2 separate regions of the Homo sapiens genome follow, and region 2 is linked to region 1. A link means that fine-mapping ties the variant in region 1 to the expression of a gene that starts in the linked region. Tissue or cell type: whole blood. Region 1 holds a variant in brackets; the other region holds the start of a gene. All regions are shown on one strand. Distances are from middle to middle.

Evidence for each region. PIP is the estimated chance that this variant, and not a neighbour inherited with it, causes the effect.
Region 2: OAT starts here. The variant in region 1 is fine-mapped to the expression of OAT in whole blood (INTERVAL, PIP 0.96).

Annotation. Positions count from the first base shown.
Region 1 is chr10:124,254,734-124,257,487 of GRCh38, reverse strand. No RefSeq gene overlaps it. Among named protein-coding and RNA genes, the nearest start is that of CHST15, 160 kb to the right of the region's middle. The variant C/T (reference allele first, on the strand shown) is at 1,285.
Region 2 is chr10:124,417,477-124,420,230 of GRCh38, reverse strand. OAT (ornithine aminotransferase) reads left to right here and starts at 1,308. Exons shown (of 10, transcript NM_000274.4): 1 at 1,308-1,358. RefSeq lists an enhancer at 119-633 and silencers at 607-1,266, 1,209-1,748.

The DNA of each region.
Region 1 (2,754 bases):
TGTTATAATATATGTTAATTATATTTGACCCCAGTGTCCTGTCTGATCCCAAAACTGTAATTGGTCAAATATATGATAATATAGGCAGTCTCTACCTCCACTGTAATGGAGAAATGGGAAGTAGGTGTGTTTGGGGCTCTTTTTCCCCCTTTCTGTTGGCAGAGACTCCAAGGTTTTCACGAAAAGTCTAGAGGAGGCTTGATTCTGTTCTAGTCCCAGTCATTTCAGAGTCCACAGCTGGAGAAGATGTCAGCCTTTCTCTGCTCACCTGATTCCACCCTCCCTGAGCCCCTCCCCAGGTCAGGGGCCTGCCAGGAGATAGTGCCCACCTCGTCCTTCCTCATGCCCACCCACTTCTGTACGGCACACACCAGGCCTTGCTCAGCCTCTGCAATTTCTGATGGCAACTCCCCAGGGCAACTGACCCCTCCTCCAGGTGGATTCTCAGGCCTACCATGGTTCCGCCCCCACAGGGTGTGGAGAAAGGTTGGGGGTGGAATTAGGCTTTAGGGCTTGGGCCCTGAATTAGTTTCCAATGGCAGCTGCAACAAAGCACCATAAACTGGGTGGCTTGAAACATGCCCCGGTCTGCAGAACTGAGCGCTTCTGAGACCCTAGGTAGAACCGCTGCTTGCTTCTCTCCAGCTCCCCAAGGTGACTGATGCTCCCGGCCCACAGCTGAAATCTCTACCTCCACGGTCACAGGGAGTTCTCCCTGTCTCTGTATGTGTTCAAGCCCCTCTTCTTATAAGGACAACAGTCATATTGGATTTGGGATCCACCCTACTCTGGTACAACCTCATCTTCACTTCACTAATTACATCTGCAGTGACCCCATTTCCAAACAAGGTACTAAGGGTTATGACTTCAGCGTATCTTTCTGGGGGACACAATTCAACCCATCACAGGGTCAGAGAAGGGAGGAGCCCCCAGCGATCAGGCCCCAGAGTAGAGCATCAGAAGCCAAAGAGGTCACATCCTACAGAGCCCCCAGCTTCCCCAGCAATACATTTGCACTTTATTATCCTGAATGACTGTTGTCCCCAGGCTTTGAAACAGGACCTTGCTGTGCAGGTGCCAGGCCCTGGTGTGTGCCTAGAAACCTGTCTTTTCACATAGAAGTAAAGGAATGTGAGAAAACTGGGCTATGGGACTCGCCCACGTCAAATGGGGACAGGACCTTCCCGGGGAGACCAGCTGCTTTCCATTTCGTCCCAGCAGCCGGGTGTGAGGGCAGAGCTGTCCACTTGCTATTGGTAGCAGATGTAGCCTCTTGCTGGCTCC[C/T]GAGTTATTTCTGTGACTCCATCTTGACTCCCAATTTTTCTCCCCTCTCCCCTCATTCTTCCCAAGCATTAGGACTTTGCTAGGGTCGCATTTCTGGGTGAGCTCTAGGAAGTCCTCTGAGCTCTGCTGGTCACCCAGAGAACTGGCCAGTGTTGGCTAAGCATCTACTGCGCCAGTGTCCTGCTGCACAAGGCTGTTTCCTGTAGGGAGTGACGCATGGGGCTGTTTGCTGGGTCTGATGTTGGACATGGTATTATTTACCCCCAACCCTACCCCCTAAACTTGGCAAAAAGGATTAATGATTTTATTTCCAAATATTTGTGTTGGAAATTAATGCTGAGGGAGAGAAGAGGCCGAGTTTGGCTTTCAGAGAAGGCTCCTAGCTGTTGGGTTTGTAAACACCAGTGGATGTCTGCATTTTGTCAAGCCAGTCCTCCTTCTGGTTTCCATCACCCTCCATTAGCCCAGCTACGGCCATAGGGTATCGGATTCCATTACGCAGACAGCAGACCAAAGAGGCAGAGTCCCAATCATCCCTGTCCATTCCCATTGGATGGGATTGTTATTTTCTGCGTCATTTACCTTTGGTTCAATTCAAGTTTATTTTAACACAGATTAAGCAGCCTTTAAATGGAGACCCTGGGGTTCCTCCAAGCCTAGGCTGCCTCTAAGCGTGGGAGCGGGTCAGTTTGGAACAAAAGCAGCTGAGGGTGAGAACAGGAGATTGGGATAAGCCTCTGACACATGACAGTTGAGGAAGAAAGGAGATAAGCACAAAGCACTTTGTATTAGTCCATTTTCACTGCTGCTGATAAAGACATACCTGAGACCAGGTAATTTATAAAGAAAAAGAGGTTTAATGGACTCAGAGTTTCACATGGCTGGGGAGGCCTCACAATCATGGTGGAAGGCGAAAGGCACATCTTACATGGTGGCAAGCAAGAGAGAATGAGAGTCAAGTGAAAAGGGAAGCTTCTTATAAAACCATCAGATCACGTGAGACTTATTCACGACCATGGATGGGAACACTATGGGGGAAACCATCCCCATGATTTACCTCCCACTGGGTCCCTCCCACAACACATGGGAATTATGGGAGCTACAATTCAAGATGAGACTGGGGTGGGGACACAGCCAAACCATATCACACTCTCATATACAATATTTTACTTAATCCTCACAATAGCTATCTGTATATCCACTGCACAGATGAGGAGACTGAAGCCCAAAAAGGCCAAGTGATCTGCTCAGGTTACCTAGCTAGTAAGTGGCACAGCTGAACAGGTCCAAGGTTCCTGAATAGAGGATTTCTCCTTCAGGCAGGTGGTTTCCGCTGCCCTCTGATTACTCTGTGGTGAGTGGTGGCCTAGTCCAAATAATGAGCTTTCTTCCTAGGGCTGGGGATCTGAGCAGAAATCTTTGCAGCTGAGTGCTGCCTTCTCACTGGCTGGCTGGGAGCTGCAGGAGCAA
Region 2 (2,754 bases), 160 kb before region 1:
GCCGTTGGGCCTAGGATGGATAATGGCCCTCGCTGGTGCATGAGACCCAGGTTATTTCTCCATCCCTTGTGGTTTACTTGCCTACATTGATTGATTGATTGGTTGATTAAGATAGATGGTCTTGCTTTGTTGCCCAGGCTGGAGTGCAGTGGTGCAGTCATAGGTCACTGCAGCCTCAACCTCCTGGGCTCAAGTGATCCTCCCACCTCAGCCTTTGGAGTAGCTGGGAACATAGGTGTGCCACCACACCAGATTAATTTTTATTTTTTTTTGTGGAGACGGGGTCTCACTGTGTCGCCCAGGCTGGTCTGGAACTCCTGGGATCAAGCAATCCTCCTGCCTCGGTCTGCCAAAGTGCTGGGATTACAGGCATGAACCACGGGCCCCCACCACCACGTTTTAGGAAATGTTCACATTGGAGTGTGCCCTCTGTTTCCAGCTGGGCCCCCGACTGGTCATTGTGGTCTAATGGAGTGTGGTGCCGGCAGCTGCCAGCGCCTGCCCTCTGAGAGGGGTGGCGAGGGGCACACAGGACCAGACTGCCCCTACTGTTGGATGACTGGGTAAGTCGCTTTCCTTCTCTGGGTCTCTGTTTTCCAATATTTAACATCTTGTTGTGGGCTAAGTGAAGTCCAAGTCCCTTCCGATTCTAACATGAGGTTGTCCCGGAATATCTATTTTGTGTTCTGAATTTAATAACCGGCTGTGGAGGGCACCACAGGCAAATCTGTACTGTGAGTGGGTTGCTGCCACTCAATTATCTGACAGCAGCTGCGAACAGGTGGGCAGTGTGTTTTCCATAGGCAGCGACGACTTTTGGAGGTGGATTCAGAGGCACAACTAAGCCGCGCGGCGCATCAGGGTTCAAGGGCATGGGGCTCCCGCAGCTGTGGCTGGGGCAGAGCTGGGGCTGGTCCCTCCCTCCAGGAGCACAGGGCGGGCGGTCCAGCCTCACGTCTCTCGGCCTCCAGCCACACCCGGCCCGCGCAGTGGGGGGCCCAACAGACTTTTCCTTTTCGGGCCTCAGTCTTCTCGTCAGCAAGGGCGGACAAGGACTCTTCTCGTCCCGCCAGAGGAGGCGACCGAGGGGCCTGAGCTCAGGTACAGGCCGGCGGGCTCAGGAGGCGCGAGCGCGGATCGAATCCGCGGGAGGAGCAAAGATCCTTGATGCGCGGCCGGAGGGCGGGGCGGAGGACGGGACCCACGCGATTGGTATCCTGCCCTCCGCCCCAGCCAATGAGCGGCGAGGGTGTCTTGGGGGCGGGGCAGAATCAGCCTTTAAGTTGCAGTGACTCTCCGGCGTCACTGTTGCGCTTCATAGACGCCGCGTGTACCCGGTTGTCCTCAGGCGCTGTCAGGTACCGTCTGGGCGCCGCTGTCCTGGGGCTCTGGTTCGGGCCCTGGCCGGGGTTCCCTGACAGCGGCGGGGGAGGCGGGCGGGCGCGGGGTGGCCGCGGCCCGGGTTCGGGGGATGCTGGCTGAGGGGGCGCGCTGGGCCTCGGCCGGGGAACGAGCCCCGCTTCAGCGGCCCGTTTACTCTGCGGGCGGCTCGGACCCGGGCGCCCTGGAGTCTCCGGCCGGCGCGCAGCTTCAGGGGGCAGGGGCGTGGCGACCCACGGCTTGCAGGCCGGAGTCCTGGTTCCAGCCCAGAGCGGCCGACGGGCGGGCGGCAGGGAGAGGCTGAGGATGTGGCAGCCCCGCCTGCCAGACCGGGCGGAGCCGCCGCCCCCTGCGCTCGCGGCCTGTGGAGGCCAGGACTCGGCCCACCCGGCCCAGAGACCCCGAGGCGCCCCGGGGTTCCGGGTAGGAGGCCTTTGGGCACCCTTGGTTCCTGGGGTTGGCGGGGAGGCTGCGTTCTGGGGACGGGGGAGCTGTGCAGTAAACCGGTGGCCCTGGTCACGCGGCGGGGGCGCTGATGCAGCCTTGGAGGGCTGGGTCCTCCCGGCCTGCTCCTGCGCCCTGCAGATCGGCCTGCCCATCGCTCCCCTCTTCCAGCCTATGATTTTTTTTCTCCAGCCTCTGTCGAAATAAAGAAAATTACGGAAGCAGAACCTTCCTTACAGTAACGTGCAGGTTAATTAGATGGTGGGGGATGGGGGGGCAACAGGACTTTCAGCATGAAAACCTCCCGTTGGGGGCTTTTTGCAAACCCTGCTGAGCATCAGTAAATGGGCCTGGCCAGTGCGTTTCCTCGATCGCCTTCCCGGGCGGGACGGGAGGGGTCATTGTCCGCCCTTTGCTGGCGAGAGGACTGAGGCCCGAAGTCACCTGGGCACTCGCCCTGTGACCCACCGTCTCCTTTTGTCACTCTACATCTTACCTTTTCGGTGTTCAGTTTTACCTCTTAGATAAATTACGGTGATAAATTAAGGGCGAACAGACAGTGACTTTGGAATGAAGTGGCTTTACCTTAAGAAATGACTAATGTTCAGTTTCCAAATTCTAAATTTCTCCTTCTGGGATTGAAAGGGTTTCTGTGGATAAGCTAGTTCTTTCAGTTAACCCCGGAACTGTTCTTTAGATTGTAATCAATCGCTCTTAGCCATGTGAAATAACAATAGACTCCTTTCATTAGAATATCCTGGTTCTGTCTTTAGATGAATCTTTTCATAAAAACGAGCGTTAAATTAAAAAGCTTATTTTTAGCCCGGCACGGTGGCTCACACCTGTGTAATCCCAGTATTATGGGAGGCCCAGGCAGGCGGATCACCTGAGGCCAGGAGTTTGAGACTAGCCTGGCCAACATGGTGAAAC